Linked DNA regions of Homo sapiens. The protein of the gene in region 1 purifies or fractionates together with the protein of each later gene. This does not show direct contact. Each region holds a gene or a part of one and is shown on either strand. Other genes may lie near its edges.

Region 1 (5,918 bases):
TTATCTTTACCTTTAAAAAACTTTGTCTATTTAAATCAGGAGCTGCAGGCAGAAATTCTTATCTGGAAGTTCTTCTGAAGTTGGCAGACAAATACAAAAAGAAAATGTGGGGGTAAGTTACTGAGCTTACTGTCTGAGTGTCATCTGAACAGCTGATTATAGGCTTTCTTGAGAGTGGTTCCCCCGTGTTTTTGTAAGCTGTGTTCTATGTTTGCTCTGCTATATGTTTTTTTTTTTTTTCCCTCCTGCCTCAGCCTCCCAAGTAGCTGGGATTATAGGCGCCCGCCACCACACCCAGCTAATTTTTGTATTTTTAGTAGGGTCAGGGTTTCACCATGTTGTCTAGGCTGGTCTCAAAACTCCTGACCTCAAGTGATCCACCTGCCTCCACCTCCCAAAGTCCTGGGATTACAGGTGTAAGCCACCGCACCCGGCCTGCTCTGCTATATGTTTTTATTCAGGATGTGAAAACTTTATCATGGGAGGAAAAGAAGGAATGAAGGGCTGTCAGCACAGCATGCATTTTTCTCATAGGAATCATGTTTTACATGGTGATTGGAGTGCCAGGTTAGCAGGCAGACACATAAGGAGTAGTGCACCTGAATTCTACTGTGAACTTGAAGGCTGGGTGAGAAAGGGGAAATAGAATTGTTTCCTTCTCCTCTTCTGAGTTAAGGACTGGATCTAGGCACATTTTCAAAACAGTGTATCTCTTTCCTATTTTATCCTTTTTTTTTTTTTTTGAGACAGAGTCTCACTCTCTTGCCCAGGGTGGAGTGCAGTGGCACAATCTCGGCTTACTGCAACCTCCGCCTCCCGGGTTCAAAAGATCCTCCTGCCTTAGCCTCCTGCGTAGCTGGGACTACAGGCGCACGCCACCATGCCCGGCTAATTTTTGTGATTTTAGTAGAGATGGGGTTTGCACCATATTGGTCAGGCTGGTCTCGAACTCCTGACCTCAGGTGATCCACCTATCTTGGCCTCCCAAAGTGCTGGGATCACAGGCGTGAGCCACCGTGCCCAGCCTCCTTCCTATTTATCTTTTTGCTTCTTGTCCTCAGTATCCATTGCTTTCCCCAGGTACCTAGCGCCCCCTGTTGTCCCTCTCTCGATGACCTTGCTCCTCCTCCATTAGTCCAGCAAATGTTTATTAGATGCCTACAGAACGCGAGAACATGCTTAATAACCCAAATGATATTGGTGGGATTTCAGGTAAAAAGGGAAAATCCATATAGAAACTCATCTTTTGTTTTTATTTGTCATTCTACGAAATATCTGAAGCGTGATCTTTTGTTCTCTAAGATCTTCTAGTTAGATCGTAAGCAATTTAAAAGACATATTTGCCCTAAAAACCAGTCTGGTTTTCTAGGTGGCTGTGGACAGAAGCTGGAGCCCAGTCTGAACTTGAGACCGCGTTGGGGATTGGAGGGTTTGGGTACCCCGCCATGGCCGCCATCAATGCACGCAAGATGAAATTTGCTCTGCTAAAAGGCTCCTTCAGTGAGCAAGGCATCAACGAGTTTCTCAGGTAATTTGTTTTCTTAGGTTGTTTGTTGTTTTGTCTGTTTGTTTGGTTCTGTTGTAGGTTTATATTTGGAACTAGGTATATATAAGCCAGGTAATAAATGGAATTTAAAATGCAAACTAATTCCAGAGAATTGAATGTTTATACATTAGAGTTTTTAAATTGTCTCCCTGTTCGTTCTTTTTTCCATGGAATACTCTGCTTGCGGGATGAGGAGAAAGCATTGCTACCCTCGGGCCGCCCTGTGTGCCATTCTGTGCATCTGGCCCTGGGCTCTTTCTCATTCTCATAAAGGTCTCATATGGGCTAGAGGCAGCCCTGTCTGTCCATCCTCACCCTCATATGCATTGTAATCTTGACCTTGGGGAAATGTGGTTTCCATTTCTGGGCACTTGGCTTTGGAATGTAGTTATTTATTTGAAAATGGGCGTACTTAAGTTACTCCAACAATGTGCAAACAACATGATAGGTTCTAAAACCAATATACAGAGCTGTCTACTCTGCTCTGCTATTCAGCTCACCTAATCATCTTTTAGGCAATACAGGGCATTGACCTAAAGAGGTTTTATTTCCCATTCTTGCTTTCTTCCGCGTTCATTTCTTAGCTGCTGTATAAGAGATGTTCAGCACACAAAAGGTAGTTGAGAGGCTTGTGTTGAATAATGAATAGGAAGAACAGTACATGAAAGCCTGCAGTGCTCTTGCTGCCAGTCTTCCTACTTGACACAGAAGTTTGTGTGCTGTGTGGAGACGTGTGTGTGTGCTGTGTGGAGAGTAGGGGCTCCAAAGTCAGGTGCCTCAGTCACAGCTCTGCCTTGAGTAGTGAAGTGGGAGGCATGGAGGAAGCCCTGTGAGATCAGCTGCTTCAGCCTCTGCCGGCGGGGGGCAGACTGTGGCTCCTTCCCTCCCAGCTCTCTCTCATTGTAGTTGGTTAATATGGTTAATGGGTGTTTTCTTTCCCCCCCACCCCCGAGACAGAGTCTTGCTGTGTCGTCCGGGCTGGCACGATCTCGGCTCACTGCAACCTCCACCTCCCGGGTTCAAGTGATTCTCCTGCCTCAGCCTCCTGAGTAGCTGGGATTACAGGCGCCTGCCACCACGCCCAGCTAATTTTTGTATTTTTAGTAGAGATGGGTTTTCACCAGGTTGGCCAGGCGGGTCTCAAACCCCTGACCTCAAGTGATCCACCCACCTCAGCCTCCCAAAATGCTGGGATTACAGGTGTGAGCCACCACGCCTGGCCAAGGGGGTGTTTTCATTAAGTTTGTGGGGCTGGGTGCGGTGGCTCACGCCTGTAATTCCAACACTTTGGGAGTCTGAGGCAGGCGGATCACTTGAGGCCAGGAGTTCGAGACCAGGCTGGCCACCACGGTGAGACCTTATGTCTACTAAAAATACAAAAAATAGGCCAGGTGTGGTGTTGTAGGCCTGCAGTCCTAGCTACTAGGGAGGCTGAGGCACACCCAGGAGGTGGACGTTGCAGTGAGCTGAGATCACACCACTGCACTCCAGCCTGGGCAAAAGAGTGTGACTTGGTCTCAAAGAAAAAGAAGTTTGTGGACTGCTTAAGTTTGTGATTGTCATAGAGTAGTATTTATTAAATCATGAAGTCAGAATGTGAATATATCTCCTGTAATTTTTTTTTCTAATAATAGGTTTGCTTATTCTAGCCCATTGGTGCCATAGATTGTTAGTCTAGCTCTATTATTCTATGAGTTGTTTGGTGAACTCTAAATATTTGTGCCCACAGTATTTCTGGCTCTGGTTTCCCAACAGCCAGATTACACCAGGTCTGGTATGTTTCAAGTACTGATGTTTATGCACATACGCACCCCGCTCTCTGCCAGCGCACTGGAACCAGTCGCCTCACTTCTGATATGCTCCCTCTGTACAGGTTCACAGCAGTCTTAGAAAGCTCGCAGGCAGCCCATGTTCTAGATCAACTTTGATAATTATTTATGTATTTAATTTGTATTTCAGCAAATGCTCTGCTATTTTTAAAAGCTTACTGATAGCAACTGACTTTATCTGATGCAGGGGGCTTAGTTGGGAATGTTGAATCTGGTTGTAATGTTGTCCGTGATTAAAAAGATAATGTCCTCAAGGTGTTTCTGAGGAATGTAGTGCAGCAAGAGAGAAGAAATGCCTCTGCATAAACAAAGTAGGCAGACTGTTATTTTTAAAGTTGTTTATTCTTCTGCACCAGCAGTCCATTGTAAATGTGTGTGTGTGTTTTGGTCATTTTTCCCTAAGGGAGCTCTCTTTTGGGCGTGGCTCCACGGCACCTGTAGGAGGCGGGGCTTTCCCTACCATCGTTGAGAGAGAGCCTTGGGACGGCAGGGATGGCGAGGTGAGTGCCCGGGAGGGAAGCTGTGCGGGCAGCAGTCCTGGTTTACTCTCTTGAGCCTGTGCATCTCTGCACCTGGAGTCAAGTCCTTCCCATCAGACCTCAGCCCTGGTGCACCCGTGGGCCTTTTAAGAGGTTCTTCTCTGAAGACCCTTCATCTTCCTTATCACAAGTTTAAGTGCTGCATGGCATTTGATACTCTTGACAGCCAAGATACATTTCAGTAGTAAGGTTGCTTTCCTGATTATTACCTTAAAGTGAACATTTAACCTGGAATTCATTTACTTTATCTTAGAAAAATAGAAAATGATAGCTTTGAAATTAGCACTTATTTCTGTACTGTTGTGTCCCACCCTCCTCAAAAGGACACGTTCAAGTGGCTTCCAGTGTTAAAATGGTGAGTGATGTGATGTTGAAATGTTTCACCTGAGTTCTGAGCTTTTCCATCCGTATAATCATAGGTACGAAGGTCAGGGTAGGAGTCAGACTGAGGAGAACCTGGATTGTAGCAGGAGTAGCTCCAGAGAGTCGCTCTTCCATAAAATGAGATGTTGACCTTCCAGGGTGTCCCCTTCTGCAGATCTAACAGTGGCTTTCTGTCGTCTCCCAGCTTCCCGTGGAGGATGACATTGACCTCAGTGATGTGGAGCTTGATGACTTAGGGAAAGATGAGTTGTGAGAGCCACAACAGAGGCTTCAGACCATTTTCTTTTCTTGGGAGCCAGTGGATTTTTCCAGCAGTGAAGGGACATTCTCTACACTCAGATGACTCTACCAGTGGCCTTTTAACCAAGAAGTAGTACTTGATTGGTCATTTGAAAACACTGCAACAGTGAACTTTTGCATCTCAAGAAAACATTGAAAAATTCTATGAATTGTTGTAGCCGGTGAATTGAGTCGTATTCTGTCACATAATATTTTGAAGAAAACTTGGCTGTCGAAACATTTTTCTCTCTGACTGCTGCTTGAATGTTCTTGGAGGCTGTTTCTTATGTATGGGTTTTTTTTAATGTGATCCCTTCATTTGAATATTAATGGCTTTTTCCATTAAAGAATAAAATATTTTGGACAATGCCGATAAATGTATGAAGTTAGTATCCACATCATAAATTCAGAGTGATGTTTAGCAGTAAATCAATATTTTGAAGTGATACACAGATGTCTTTCCTCCCCACAAACTTTTTTAAACAAAAAACAAGACCTCTTTTCTTTAGATGGTGCCACCTATGCCCACCACAACAGAGATTTTACATGGAAACCGGGCTCAGTGAGAACTGATTTCCTGCCCAATATTTGTCTTTGGGCTGTCTCTAGTGACTAATTATTAAGGAATCTAGCTGGTTATACAGTTCAAGGCTTTCTATGTTGTTAATGAACCTCAAAATAGCCGTTAAGACATGAAATACAGCAGCAGGTTACCAATGCGAACAGGTAGTTCGCATTTATGTAAAACATTCAGAAAATGAAGTTTTGAATTTGTTGGAACATTCAAAGGACTTGAGAGCATTTTATTGTAACTTAAAAAAATAAATACAACTGTCACTAACTTTTGTGAGCAATTTCTCTGAAAAAGATCTTAGTTCTGTAAGACATTTGAACCATTCTCTGGCTAAAGGAAAGAGGTGTCTGTAATAATCTGCACGAACATGAGACAGAGGTGCCAGCTGGCCTTTCTAGTCAAGAAGACTAAGGTCAATATGGAAGTAGACATAAGGAAAATAGTCTTGGTTATTGAGTTGCAGTCCCGGGATCTCCACAGATGCCTACAAAAGAAGACATGGTAATGCTCTAAGTGCATAAACTAGTTTCCTGTCTTATCCTTTTAGTTTTGAGGAAGCTCGCCAGGCACTGAGCGTACGTTCTGCTCTGCGTAGCTGTGGTCCACCCCTCCAACCCTCTCCTTGCTGTGCTTTAATGTGTATGACATGTAGATTTTCATAACAGGCTGACAGATAGTTTTGCTTTGTTTTGTTTTTGAGACAGTTTCTGTCACCCAGGCTGGACTCAGCTCACTGCCTGCCTCAGACTCCCAAGTAGCTGGGATTA
Region 2 (7,023 bases), on another chromosome or scaffold:
ATCCTATTCAAAGTGAAGATTTTGACAACGTGTGGTTGATATGAAACCTTTAATTTCTCTGAGAAGTCCCGCTGCTTGCTTTAGTAATACCCTTAATGCCTCAGGACATAACATACTCAAAAAAAAACTGTGCATAAAGAAGTTCTAAATGAATCTTGGTATCCTTTCTAGATTAAATGAGCAACATGCACATCACAAGGTCTTCCTTAAGTGTGCCTGAGATGTGAAATAGCATGCAGACTATTCCCACTGATATTTAATAATACATTAACATGCAAAAATGGGTATCATTGTGTACCCTTTTGTACAATGTTTCAGGATTCAGTTATTTCCTCTGAATTACTAGAAAATTACAATGTTTTGGGTTCTCCCATTATTTATTGTCCTAGTGGTATGAGAAATGCTTATAGTAACCTTGCAGAAATACTTCAATTAAGGCTTAGTCTCCCACAGAACAATATATATCACATAGGGAGAATATAACTTTGTAAAATATTTAGAAAGTTTAATCTTTTATCCTACACATTCCAGATGTACATTAGCAGGAAGTATAAGTTTTAAAACAAAACTACTTTGTTCAAGATGAAAGAGATGGATATTTTCCCATGTTAATCAACTCTTATTTCAAGAACTCATTTTAATGTTAATATGCTCCATAGTTGAGGGTTAGCCATAAAATACATTTAGACTTTTATAAAAATTGCACATAAATTTCATAGAGGAATTATTTCATATGGTCAGTAACAGAAGAAAATATGAATTGACTGCAAGAGCACTAGATTTGGAGCTAGACTGAAGTCCCATGAGGTCAGGAGTTCGAGATCAGCCTGGACAACATGGAGAAACCATGTCTCTACTAGAAATACAAAAATTAGCTGGGCATGGTGGCACATGCCTGTAACCCCAGCTACTGGGGAGGATGAAGCAGGAGAATCACTTGAACCCGGGAGGCGAAAGGTTGCAGTGAGCCAAGATTGTGCCCCTCACTCCAGCCTGAGCAACGGAGCAAGACTCTGTCTCAAAAAAATTAACCCTGACATTTTTTCAAATGTTGAAATTATAAGACACAGTTATGAGTTTAATTTCTGGCAGTTTCAAATCAGGCAACCTCCAGCAGGCAAGTCATTCTCTAAGTCTTGGCCACTTATCAGTGAAAGGAAGTAAAATCAGAAAGCTTTTTTAAACATCAATAAATGCCTTTCCTCTATCTTGTAGTTGACTAGTTACTTTCACATCCACTATCTTGTTTAATTATCAAACCTACAGCTGAAGAGAAGGCCTTCCTTCTCATGGGGTCAGAAACAGAATCACAGACTTTGACTTCTCATCCATGGTTCTGATCATAGGCCAACTGGTTTCAGGTATCTAAACTTTAAATTGCCCTAAGACTCATTTTAATTGACCACTAAACATTCAGAGATTTTCAGATTTCCTTTTTCCACTGATAATAATCTTGAATTTTTTTTTTTTTTTGAGACGGAGTCTTGCTCTGCTGCCCAGGCTGGAGATGCAGTGCCGTGATCTCAGCTCACTGCAAGCTCTGCCTCCCGGGTTCACGCCATTCTCCTGCCTCAGTCTCCTGAGTAGCTGGGACTACAGGCACCCACCACCACGCCTGGCTAATTATTTGTATTTTTTAGTAGAGACGGGGTTTCACCATGTTAGCCAGGATGGTCTCAATATCCTGACCTCGTGATCCGCCTGCCTCGGCCTCCCAAAGTGCTGGGATTACAGGCGTGAGCCACTGCACCTGGCCAATAATCTTGAATTTAATTTGGCTATTTGAGGATAAGAAAGGGATCAAGCAAATTGCTATTATTGTTGTTTTTCCAAAATCAACTCACTTCCATGACAACTTCTGATGAAAAACATTGGGTTTTGGTGAGCTGTGTTTCACAGATGGCACCTCACTGACCTGATTAACACTTAAAATTCCAATAACTAGGTCACTCTTAGAAACATTTCCTTGACCAAAAGGATGTCCCAATGATCTTAAACCTGGGGAGAGGGGAAGGAAAAGGGAGACCGCCAGGAAAGAATTCAGAGTGCTCTCCAGGAAGAGACAGCAGGAGTCTTTGAGAGGTTTTGGTTTATTTACAAAGATTATAAATACTAACTTGATATCAACCTAGAGATTCTACTTGTCTAAACCTTTCCCCCTCTTTTATTCATTCCAAGCAGCCCTTGGTCCAAGGTGTAATTAACAAGACCGATCCTTCCACACACATTTACCAGTGTCTTAAATTCAAATCCAAATTCTATTTTGGCAGTACTGCTAAAATCTCTTATTTCTTAGTTCTCAAAAAAATTGAAGGAGCTTTTGTCATTTTTTTAATATAAACATCTTCTTTCTTGAAACTGGATCTATAAACAATTTAATGTATTGTGTTCCTCAATAATAGAGTAAATCTGATTTCTGCTAATATTTTGGGTCAGTGACACCCCAAAACCTTTTGCTTTTTATCATGAAGAAGCCCCTCAGACACCTTCTACCTTACTAATGTCTCCATCCAATTTACTATCAAGAAAAGACAGTTTCTCCTTTTTTTTTGTGGTCAGCTTGGATCTTTTGAAGGAGGCATGTCTGTGTGCAGTGAGTTATCACCCAGATGTTCTTGTAGGTATTTTTTTTTTTTTTTGAGGCAGGGTTTCACTTTGTCACCCAGGCTAAAGTGCAGTGGCACAATCTCAGGTCACTGCAGCCTCAATCTCCTGGGCTCAAAATGATCCTCCCACCTCAGCCTAAGTAACTGGGACTACAGGCACGCGCCACCATGCCCAGATAATTTTTTTGTAGAGACGATGTTTTGCCATGTTGCCCAGGCTGGTGTTGAACTCTTGAGCTCAAGCGATCCACCTGCCTCAGCCTCCCAAAGTGCTGGGATTATAGGCGTGAGCCACCATGCCCAGCCAGTCTCGTAGTTTTATAGCTGTGAATTGCTCACAAAAGTCAATCATAAAATTTAGTTTATCGTAAAGTCTGAAGTCCCTTCACCACTGGACTTTATGAACAAAGCTATGTCTAACTCTGCTAGGAAATATTTTCTGATGAAACAAGTGTTTTAAGTAAGAAAAAACTCTCCCAATCATCTAACTCCTCACCCTTTCTGTGCCCACAATATTACTATAATAAAAAGCAACGTGCCTTTACAGAAGCCATGCTACATATGTCTCACCAAAAACGGCACATAGGCACTTTCAGACACAGTGCTAAAAAGAAATCAGATGATCAAAGTTGAACAGCCTCACATCTCATGTGACCTTACATGTCAGCAAAGTTTCCAGCAATCAAAATTGTATAACCATTTTATAACCAATAAACCCGTATGCAGCACAAATGTCTCTTTCTCCCCGACGTTCATCATCAGCCAGAGTAAAATGTTAATTCGGAACTGGATGAAGTGACAAGCTTTTGAATGTTGAGAGAATGAGGGCCAGAGGTGGCCTCAGCCTCAACACTTTGGGAGGCTGAGGCGGGCGAGTCACTTGAGGTCAGGAGTTGGCGACCAGCCTGGCCAACATGGTGAAACCCCGACTCTACTAAAAATACAAAAATTAGCCCGGTGAAGCCAGAAGCTGCGGCCCTGCCTTTCATATCCTGGGAACACAGAACCACTCAGGGGAAGGTAAAGCAGAACCAGGAAATGGAAAGAGAGCTCAGGCAGCAAGGGAGGGAAGCACGCTCTCAGCTGAGTTCCATTTTGAGACTCCCAGGAGAGTAAGTTCTCTATGTAATTAGGTTCATCAAGAGGAGGGAGAGGAGCACATTTTCTCACAGGTCAAAGCTGGGGCCTATGGGGTGGGGGGGGCCTTTAAATTATTTGTCTTTGACCTGGGGCCTTTCCTGAGGTATCCACACCCACCTCCAATTAGTCCACAGGGACTTCACAACTCCCCAATCTTAAAAATTGGGGGAGAATGTGTTCACACCTGGATTCTTCCTGGGGGTTTATGGCCATAGTTCAAAGGCCTAAGATTAGAGTCATGATCCATAGATATTCCAGGAGCTTCCAGCAGTGGATCCTGACACCCCAGGGAAAGAAATCCTTATACCTGGTCACTCCAGAGTTCTTAGGCTCCTACACAAGGTGAGCTTCCCAGTTTCCCATTGCCAACTCCACAGACACGCCCTGGATGACCACCAACTCACTCCCCAATCACAGCTCCACCCCAAAAGAGGGTGGGAGCAGATCAGAAGTGGCTTTAATGGTGTACCCAGAGAAAAAGCTGCTGTCCCTTTCTCTAGGAATGCTTCAAGAGAAAAGGAGATAAAGACTAAGTGGAATGAAAAAAAAAAAAAACCGGAACGATTTACCACTGTTGTTTTGGTTTTTTTAAATGTGGCTCAAAGAATGTTGGTGGTTCCACCAGCTGAAACCTGTGGCTATTCTAAGCATCTGTTAGAGTTACCTCAGAAAGAGCTTTGCATTTTTGTTAAGATATTTGATTAAGTTATTTGAGCGCTCAGTGTATAAAGTCAGATAGGCCTGGGGTCAAATCTCAGCTCAGCCACTTGTAAACTATATGACCTCAGATAAATGCTTTTATCTATCTCTCTAAGCCTCAATTTTCTCATCTAGAAAATGAGGGTAGGTCAGGTGCAGTGGTTCATGCCTGTAATCTCAGGGCTTCGGGAAGCTGAGGTGGGAGGATTGCTTGAGGCTAAAAGTTTGAGATCAGCCTAGACAACATAGCAAGACCTTATCACTATAAAAAAATTTTTTTTAATAAGCCGGGCACGTTGGTCCACACCTGGGAGGCTGAGGCGGGAGGACTGCTTGAGCCCAGGAGTTCAAGGTTACAGTGAGTTATGACTGTGCCATTCCACTCCAGATTGGGTGACAGACTGAAACCCTGTTTTTAAAAAATAAAAATTAAAAATAAATGAGTAATTGTTGCACCTATCTCACAGGATGGTTTATAAAGATGAAATGATATATTACTTGTATTTAGTATAGTGCCTGGTTCATGGAAGATATTCTGTAATACTAGTTACTAATATTACTATTATTATTTTAAGAAAGATATTTGTCATTTTACAAAGGGCCATGGTAAATTCTAGGATTTAATATTTGGACATTTAAGTGTATGAGACATTAACTTCAACATACTACCTGATTTTGCATCTGCCTAATCAATTTTCACTAACGTCATCATGAAAAACATATATATATAAAAAATATAGGCCGGGCGCGGTGGCTCATGCTTGTAATCCCAGCACTTTGGGAGGCCAAGGCGGGCGGATCACGAGGTCAGGAGATCGAGACCATCCTGGCTAACACAGTGAAACCCCGTCTCTACTAAAAATAAAAAAAAAATTAGCCGGGCGTGGTGGCGGGTGCCTGTAGTCCCAGCTACTCGGGAGGCTGAGGCAGGAGAATGGCGTGAACCCGGGAGGCGGAGCTTGCAGTGAGCCGAGATTGCGCCACTGCACTCCCGCCTGGGCCACAGAGCGAGACTCCGTCTCAAAAAAAAAAAAAAAAAAAAAAAAATATATATATATATATATATATATATATATATATATATATGAAACCAGGCCAACCCTTCCCTTCCCCACTGCTAGCCATTTCTCAAGCTCATTTGTTCTGTCTCTCCTCTCAACTGCTCTCTCTCTCCTTGACATTTTTAATGGACCATCGTTGCCTGTGGAAATATGAAGATGGTGGTCAACCACAGTGTGCAAGTCAATGGCAAGGATGTGGCATCCAACAGCTCCCTCATCGCTGTGTGCAGCTCAATGGAAAGGCTGTGTTTTGATTTGCAAAATGGCTATGATTTGCAAAATGCAACATCTGTTCCAAGTAAACAAATATTCCAAACCACCTCTTGAACTGGAAGTTTGGATTCAGCAGCACTGCTTTCTGTCTTGTTTTTCCAGGTAGAATCTGATCACAATTGTCTCTCTCTCAGCCTTACCTCACCCCCATGTTCTTGGGTCATAAACACCACCCTTTGGTGCCACCCTCCTGGCCTACCCTCACTGCACCTGGCCTACCCTCTCCAAAGCCATTGCTCACCACCTCCTGGTAGTGTACAATATATCTAGGAAATAGACTCTCAGTCCCAAGGACTTTGGGCCAACCCATTTGTGTCTGCCTCTGACAAGCTAAGCTACCATGACCTTTCCAGACTTCAACTCCCCAGTGTGAAGATTCCTAGGACCCCAGCCTCACTCCCTCCTCACTGTGTACACTCAACCTTGAACTGGCCAGCAGCCTTGTGTTTCACCTCTTCCGATGACACACACATTCTCTCATCGACCACCAAATTTCCCCCTTAGATTGGTTTCTGAGGGCTTTCAGTCCACAGAACATCTTGAACTGGAGTGTCTTGCTACCAACTCAAATTAATCTTGGGAGGCTGAGCATGGTGGCTCAGGCCTGTAATCCTAACACATTGGGAGGCTGAGGCAGGCCAAAGAATTCAAGACCAGCCTGGGAAAAATAGTGAGACCCCATCTCTAAACACAAAAAAATACAAAATTAGCCACGCATGGTGGCACGTGCCTGTGGCCACAGCTACTTGGGAGGCTGAGGTGGGAAGGATCACTTGAGCCCGGGGAGGTCAAGGCTGCAGTGAGCAGTGATCGTGCCACTGCACTCCAGCCTGGGTGACAGAGTGGGACCCTGTCTCAAAAAATAAATAAATAAATAAAAATAATCGTGGGGCCAACAACCTCAAAAAGTAATAGTTAATGAAAAGAGCTTGGGTCTAGTAATGAGGAAATTTGAACAGAGCTTCTGGCTATCCCACTAACTAGCTTAGTTAAGAATATCTGGCCGGGCGCGGTGGCTCACGCCTGTAATCCCAGCACTTTGGGAGGCCGAGGCGGGTGGATCATGAGGTCAGGAGATCGAGACCATCCTGGCTAACAAGGTGAAACCCCGTCTCTACTAAAAATACAAAAAATTAGCCGGGCGCGGTGGCGGGCGCCTGTAGTCCCAGCTACTCGGGAGGCTGAGGCAGGAGAATGGCGTGAACCTGGGAAGCGGAGCTTGCAGTGAGCCGAGATTGCGCCAC
Region 3 (7,924 bases), on another chromosome or scaffold:
CAGTTTGTCTCAAACTCCTGCCCTCAAGCAATCCTCCCACCACGGCCTTCCGAAGTGTTGGGATTACAGGTATGAGCCACTGTGCCTAGCCAAATAAAAGCATTTAAAAACTAAATTTAGTGTAAGTATGGCCGGGCATAGTGGTTCACTCCTGTAATTCCAGCACTATGGAAGACCGAGGCAGGCAGATCACTTGAGGCCAGGAGTCTGAGACCAGTCTGGGCAACATATTGAGACGCTGTCTCTACTAAAAATATAAAAAATTAGCTTGGCATGGTGGTGCACACCTGTGATCCCAGCTCCTAGGGAGACTGAGGCACGAGAATTGCTTAAACCCAGGAGGCAGAGGTTGCAGTGAGCCGAGATGGCGCCATTGCACTCCAGCCTCAGCAACAGAGCGAGACTCTGTCTCAAGAAAAAAAATTTAGCAGTAAGTGTATAGTGTGTATACAGTCTACAGTGGCATACAGTAATTTACTAGGTCTGCACATTCCCTCACAACTCCCTCACTGACTCACCCAGAGCAACTTCCAGTCCTGCAAGCTCCATTCATAAGTGCCCTGTACAAGTGTACCATTTTAAAATATTTTATACCCTACTTTTACTGTACCTTTTCTATGTTTAGATATGTTTAGATACACAGATGTATACCACCGTGTTATAACTGCCTACAATATTCAGTACTGTAACATGCTGTACAGGTTTGTAACCGAGGAGCAATAGGTTATACCATATAGCCTCAGTATGGTAGGCTTTACCGTCTAAGTTGTGTAAGTACACTGCATGATGTTTGCACAATGAAGCAATAACCTAATCACACATTTCTCAGAACATATCCCTGTCATTAAGCAATGTGTGACTGTACTTCTACTCACATTTTATTGACCAAAGAAAGTCACATGGCTATTCACAAATCCAAGCTATTGTAAGGAAGTACAATCCTATCATGTGCCTACAGAGGTCTTATGGAGAGCATCCCAGTTTTTGTCCCCTTTTTTGCTGGGAAAAAAACAGCTTTCAGGCCAGGCATGGTGGCTCATGCCTGTAATCCCAGCACTTTGGGAGGCCAAGGCTGGTGGATTGCCTGAGGTCAGGAGTTCGAGACCAGCCTGGCCAACATGGCAAAACCCCATCTCTACTAAAAATACAAAAGTTAGCCAGGCGTGGTGGTGCACGCCTGTAATCCCAGCTACTTGAGATGTTGAGGCAGGAGAATCACTTGAACCTGGGAGGCAGAGGTTGCAGTGAGCCAAGACCATGTCATTGCACTCCAGCCTGGGTGACAGAGCAAGACACAGTCTCAAAACAAAACAACAAAAAAAAAACAACTTTTTTTTTTATTGCCACTTAAAAAAGGCCTCCCTACTATGCAGAAATCAAGAACTCAACAATTGTTTCCTGTGTCACTACCAAATGTTTCCCAGGGGTTTTGCCACTATGTGGAACCAGCAGTTCTGTGAGGGACTTCTTTCAAGATACCGCCTCAGCTAGAAACAATTTCCCTTTTCCTGGTAATTGGCCATTTCTTGATTCACAGAGGTGGCTTCCTGGTGAACTTCATGCCTGTAAGCTGGCATGACTGTTCTGGAGGAGAGTACCTACCACAAGTTGGGTCAGTTAGAGCCTTTTCTACATGATTTTGTGATTAGAATGATTAGGGAGTTTTAGTCTCTGGGTAGTTGGAATTGTATCTCATACTTGGGAGAGGTTGGTAGACACATTTCCCATTGTATTATTAATACCTGGAGGCAGAGAAAACAAGTTTGCTGGAGTCATACTGGCTCCCCTTACTCTGCTTCCAGCCCATCCAAAATCCCAGCTAATTATTTCCCTTGGCCTCTGTGAGATCCATCCCACCCAAAGCCTAAAGATAAAGTCCCCTTTTATTTTCCTTGAATTGGTCTGATGGGTTTCTGGTCCTTGCAGCCAGCAAACTTCAGATAGTTCTTTGCCTCTGGACCCTGGCACAAAAAGTTCACAGGTGTAGCCCATTCCAATAAAACAGAGGTCAGGTGGTAACTATTGCATTAACTATACTAGCAGTTTCCTTACTGCTTGAGAAAGCTCATTAGAATGTGAGTGCAAATGACATTATTATAGGGATTACCTGAAATCTGCTTAATTTTTTTTAAAGGAAAGTAATATGCCTCTGTGTGTAAATATCATTTGTGACATACCCCCCAACACTGGTATTAAATGGCTGTTTCTTCTGCCTGGAATCTCTGTCTCAACAACTCTTTAGATGTGGCCCCAAAGTCACCTTTTCTGGGAAGCCTACCCACACTCTCCTGTATATTGTTAATTATGCTATTCTCTGTGCTTCCCAAAGCAGTTGGCACATCCATCTTTGTTACATATTTTCTCCCAGAAGTTTTTTGTTTGTTTGTTTTTGAGACAGAGTTTCGCTCTTGTTGCCCAGGCTGGAGTGTAATGCTGCAAACTCGCTCACTGCAACCTGTGCTTCCCGGGTTCAAGTGATTCTCCTGCCTCAGCCTCCCAAGTAGCTGGGATTACAGGTGCGCCTCACTATGCCTGGCTAATTTTTGTATTTTGAGTAGAGATGGGGTTTCACCATGTTGGTCAGGCTGGTCTCGAACTCCTGACCTCAGATGATTCATCCACCTAAGCCTCCCAAAGTGCTGGGATTACAGGCGTGAGCCACTGTGCCCGGCCAGAAGTATTTTTTTTACATGACTGTTTCCTCTGAAATACTGTTCCTCAAAGGTCGGGAGAATACCTCATTTTTCTCAGGATCCCACTGTGCCTGGATCAAAATAGATGCTCAGAAAAGTTTGTTGAATAAATGAAGTTGTATTGGAGCAGTATAACCTATATACATTCTCATTCATCCCAGAAATACTTATTGAGTACCTGAACATGTCGACCCATGTTCTAGATGTTGAAGATGGGAAAAACAAAGTTCCCACCTTCAGAGATATTATAGATGATATTCAGGTTAGAAGGGCTAGGCAGAAAAGTAAAGCAGGCTTAGAGGATAGTGATTGGAGTTGGGACTTGATACTTTAGTAGAGTGGTCTGGGAAAGTCTGGGGAGGTGACTTTTGAGTAGAAACTTGGAAAGCACACGCCTTTCTGATATCTGGAGGAAGCAACACCAAGTACAGAGGTTCTGAAGTAGAAGTGAGCCTCCATATTCCAGGAGCAAGAAGGAGGCTAGTGTGCCTGGCATGCAATGAGGAGGCCGAGTGGAAGGAGGTGCAGTTAGAGAGGTGGAGAGTATAAGTGGACGAAGGGCAGACACATAGGATCTTGGAAGCCTTTGGGAAAAAAACCACATTTTGGAAATGAAAAAAATAGGTGGGCATGGTGGCGTGCACCTGTAGTCCTAGCTACCTGGGAGGCTGAGGTGGGAGGATTGCTTGAGTTTGGGAGGTTGAGGCTGCAGTGAGCTGTGATGGGGCCACTGCACTCTAACCTGGGAGACAGAGTGAGACTGTGTCCCACTCTCCACCCCACTGCCCCCATATTTTTTTTTTTTTGGCTTTTACTCTGAGATGGGAAACCTTCTGGGGGCTTTTGAGCTTAGGTTTCAACAGGATCCCTCTGGCTTCTGTGTTGAGAGAAGGCACCATGAGAGCACAGTGGAATCGTGGAGAACAGGCAGGAGGCTACTACAATATTCCAGGAAAGAGGAAAAGGGGTATTTTAAAGGTAGAGCTGACAGGCTTTTCTAATGGGTTGCATGTGGGATATGATAGGGAGAGTGGAGTCCAGGATGACTCCAATGGTTTGTCTGGAGTCATCAGAAGAATGGAGTTGACATGAACTGAGGTAGGGAAGGTTGTGAAAGGAGCAAGCTAAGGTGCCACGTATGGGTGTTTGACTATCGACTTGTTTACTTGGACACATCGCTCACACTTGTGTATATGCTCCCTGGTTTTCAGGATCTGAAGGTTCTAAAGTTACTTGAAGTTAAAGGCAGCCTTACTTATTGAACACCAAGCACTGTGCAGAAATCTTTATATGTGGTGTCATTTAACCCTTTTAATATTTCTACTGATTTACTCATGTTTCATTGCCCTTTTACAGTTGAGAGATTAACACGTCCAAAGTCACTCAGACAATTATTAACCTGCTAGATTAATGCAGATCTGGGATTCCCATCCAGGTGTGTCAAGACCGTAGAGCTCCTGCTGTTTACTAATCACTGGATTCTAAAGGTGGGAGCCACTTTCTGAGCATATTTGCTGCAGACTTGGTTCCATAACTAAAAAGGTGCCTGGATCATGTGACGAGAATTCAGGAAAGAACCCAACCCCATCCCAGGCATTACAGGTTATACAACAGCTATGAAGAAAGGACGGTATTAGTGGACTCGAGGAGGCTGACTGATGTTTGAAAGTTCAAGTACTTGAAGACTCAATGTTAAAACAGTGATCAAGAGTTAGTTTTTTTGTTATTATTCTTAAGAAAACAGAAAATATTAAAAATTGCAGTGAACCCTTGGTTGGATAAAAGACCACTCCTAGTCGACGCTTGTTGGGAAACACTGGAATTGGAGGAGTGGGGGCAGACAGGAGCGAGAGCCCCTGCCAGCCTACACACACATCCTTTTGAAAGTGTAACCTGGTGTGACCTTCTTTAAGTGGTCCTCTGGAAAGAGCAGGATATGGAGTACAAAAGCCAGGAACCTCTGGGACCGCAGCATCCGCCCCCAGCGCCTCCTTCCCCGTCTTCTTCAGCCTCCACACGGTGGGGCGGGGAGGAGGGGGGAGGAGGAGTGCTGGCGCATGCGCCGGGGGCAAGGTCCGCTCCCCGCGACGTCAGGGGGCTCGCACCCGCTCGAAAGCCCCGCCCCGCGGCCGCCAGAGGCGACCTGGGCGGACTGGGGGGCCTGGGCCACGCCCCCAGCCGAGTCGAGCAAGGCCGAGGGGAGCCGTGCAAGGCCGAGCAGAGCCGAGCGCCTCCGAGAGCGGCCGAGCCCAGCCGAGCGGCCCGGAGTCGGTTGGTGCAGCTGCGTCCCCGCCGCTCAGCAGTCCGCGGCTCCGGCGTCGCCGCCGCCGCCGCCTCTGCGGGGCCTGCGCCGGCCGCCCGCCCGGCCGCGGGGAGGGAGGCCCGCAGCGCGGGAAGAGCGGCCCGGTCGCGGGCGCCGCCACCGCCGCCGCTGCCAGGTGAGCGCCCGCCACGGCCAGCCGGCCCCGCGTGCCCCCGCGGCTGTCAGTCCCCGGTGTCTGTATCTCTCTCTGCCTGTCAGACCCTGTGTCTGCGCGAGCTCCTTCCCGCCACGCCTGGCCCGCGGCCGGCCCGCAGTCTCAGTCAGCCCCCTCCCGCCGGCTGCCCCTGGTCTTTCTGTCAGCCGCCAGCACCCCCATGCTGAGAGGCTCCGCCCCTTCCCCCCGGAGCCCCGCCCTCCGCCATCTGTCATCACCCCCCGGGCTCCAGGAGCGGGCGTCCAGGGGTCCTAGGGGTCAGGGTAGCCCCGCGTGCCACCATCGTAGAAGGCGCAAAAGGGGGTGGTAGAGGGGAAGCGGGGGCGTTCGCGCAGGCCCGCCTGACCGTGTGAGAGTGCATGCCCGAGTGTGCGTTCCGCGTGTGCACCCGAGAGCCGCCTGCGTCCACGCCCGAGGGCCCTTGCACTCTGCTGGGATGTGGCAGCCCATGCCCCCGGTGTAAAGAGCGTCAGCTCGACCAGTGAAGGCGGCAGAGCCAGGACTCGAACCACTCGGGGTACAGTAGCACCCTGAATCTTGGGACCCTTGTCTGCCCACGCGAAAACACTACACGTGGGCCCCAGGTCCTCGGATTCCCTGAGTGGCGTGTGAGTGGAGTTTGGAGCTTGTTAAGCCTTCCCAGTTTGGGATTTTCATTCAGGGAAGCCTGTTGGAAGTGATTGAGGAGTGGATGGGATGTAGGACTTAGGTGGGGAGTGTTTGAGGGCTTGAGTCATTTTGAGTTGCATGGTTTACATTTCTGAGCAGTGATTGCCCTGGGCTTGTGCCCTGCGAGAAACTTATGTGACTTGGGGTGGGGGAGTGAGGTAGGAAGGAATGCTCCTTTCTGTTTTTATCTATGTGAACACATAGTATATATTTATCCAGATATCCTAAATGTTTATTCATGAGGCGTCCACACGTCCTTAATTTAAAAAAGGATTACAGTAGTTTCCATTTATACACGTTCTTGTGTGTTGTTATCTCAATGCTCTTTATTTGTGGTAACTTAGTATTGCAATATTTCAAAACTAAGAGAAAATGCATCCTAAAACAATTGGTATTTTGCCGGATAATTCTGAACCACGGAGAAGGAGCCAAAAGCGCACTTCATTAGCTGGAACAACTTATTCGAGCTTAATTTGTTTCTAAGAGACATACAGTGGAAAAATCCAGAAGCGCAAAATAGTATCAAAGACACATAGAAAATGAATGAAAAGGGCCCTTCTGTTGCTGCCTTGGAAAGATGGTATCAAAGTTGCTGTAGAGGACAGAGCCACTATGTAATGATCAACATATTAACCAAGTTGGTTTTGTGACCTTGATACATTGAGCGGGGCTTGATTTGTGCAGTGGTTCATGACAGGCAAACATTGCATGGGAAGTGTGGTAATTTTTGGAAAAAAATGTTCCCCATGTTGTTTTGGTTTTTGGTTTTGAGTTTGTTTTTTTTTTTTTCATATTGAAGTAAGATTTCAGACAAGGGAAGTCTCATGGTGGAGTGCTTTTTTCTTTTTAAAGATAACATTAAAAATTACCAAAGTAATTCATGTTTAAGGCAGAAAACTTGAAAAACAAAGAAAAGCATTGCAAACAAAACAAAACAAAAAAAACCCCATAATCCCACAAACCATAGTAAATCACAATTTGGTATTAAGCCTTTTAGCCTTGTTCCCATGTATACGTGTTTTTTCTTACAAAAATGCTATCATACTACACAACTTTTATTCTATGCTTTTTTTCTTTGACTTATAACTAGATTATGAGAGATACATCTTTGTTTTATGAGTAGGAACTTGTGTTTCTCTTTGCAATCCTTTAAAAAATTCAGATCATGTTAGTCCTCTGCTTAGAGCCCTCCAATAGCTTTTTGTCTTAAAGTAAACTCTGAAGGCCTTGCTGTGGCCTGCCAGGCTAACCCTCTTCCGAACAACCATCCTCACTTCGAGCCTTGCCAGACAGATCTCTTTGCTGTTTCTTAAAAACATCAAGCTTACACTTGTAATCACAGCACTTTGGGAGGCCGAGGCGGGCGGATCACGAGGTCAGGAGTTCGAGACCAGCCCGGCCAGCATGGTGACACCCCGTCTCTACTAAAAAAAAAAAAAAAAAAAAAAAAAAAAGCCAGGCCTGGTGGTGCGTGCCTGTAATCCCAGCTACTCAGGAGGCTGAGGCAGGAGAATTGCTTGAACCCGGGATGCGGAGGTTGCATTGAGCCAAGATCACACCACCGCACTCCAGCCTGGGAGACAGAGCGAGACTCTGTCTCAAAAAAGTCAAGCATACTCCAGCCTCAGTGCCTTTGCATTTGCTGTTCCCTCCGCCTAGAACTCTGGTCCCTGGATATTAACATAGTTGACTCCCTTACTTCAGGTCTCTGCTCAAAAGTTAGGTTGTCTGGCTTTGCTTGACTGCATTATCAAATACACCCCATTTCCCTGTTGTTCTTATCCTGCCTTGCTTACCACCACTTGGTAATACATATTTATTTGTTGGTGTATTGTCTCTCTCCCTCATTAACCCTGAAGTGTGAGACTTTTTTTTCACCGATATATCCTCAGGGCTCAGAAACTGCACCTGGCCCATTGTGGGTACTTAATATTTGTTGAATGAATGAAGGAAAGAATGAATGCTCATTATCCATCTATTCATATGACCTTGCTGGTAGCCTTCTAGGCTTCTAGGTAGCTGTGTCATGAGTTAAAATGACAATCTCTTAAAGGTCAGGATATTTCTTTCTCATCTATATCTGAG

Evidence for each region. Proteins that work in one complex are often made in the same cells at the same time.
Region 2: the proteins of PDIA6 (region 1) and PLS1 purify together in Homo sapiens (affinity purification with mass spectrometry; 3 studies listed by BioGRID and IntAct, with this or other methods). This does not show direct contact.
Region 3: the proteins of PDIA6 (region 1) and ZHX3 purify together in Homo sapiens (affinity purification with mass spectrometry; 3 studies listed by BioGRID and IntAct, with this or other methods). This does not show direct contact.

The regions. Positions count from the first base shown.
Region 1 is NC_000002.12:10,782,891-10,788,808, reverse strand, and holds the end of PDIA6 (protein disulfide-isomerase A6 isoform d precursor), read left to right. Parts: intron 1-39; coding exon 40-112; intron 113-1,369; coding exon 1,370-1,528; intron 1,529-3,698; exon of another isoform or gene 3,699-3,778; coding exon 3,779-3,875; exon of another isoform or gene 3,876-4,482; coding exon 4,483-4,551; 3' UTR 4,552-5,418; downstream 5,419-5,918. UniProt on the Homo sapiens protein: May function as a chaperone that inhibits aggregation of misfolded proteins. Negatively regulates the unfolded protein response (UPR) through binding to UPR sensors such as ERN1, which in turn inactivates ERN1 signaling.
Region 2 is NC_000003.12:142,599,386-142,606,408, reverse strand, and holds part of PLS1 (plastin-1), read right to left. Parts: intron 5,882-7,023; exon of another isoform or gene 5,663-5,881; intron 1-5,662. UniProt on the Homo sapiens protein: Actin-bundling protein. In the inner ear, it is required for stereocilia formation. Mediates liquid packing of actin filaments that is necessary for stereocilia to grow to their proper dimensions.
Region 3 is NC_000020.11:41,314,716-41,322,639, reverse strand, and holds the start of ZHX3 (zinc fingers and homeoboxes protein 3), read left to right. Parts: upstream 1-4,908; 5' UTR 4,909-5,131; exon of another isoform or gene 5,132-5,778; intron 5,779-7,924. UniProt on the Homo sapiens protein: Acts as a transcriptional repressor. Involved in the early stages of mesenchymal stem cell (MSC) osteogenic differentiation. Is a regulator of podocyte gene expression during primary glomerula disease. Binds to promoter DNA.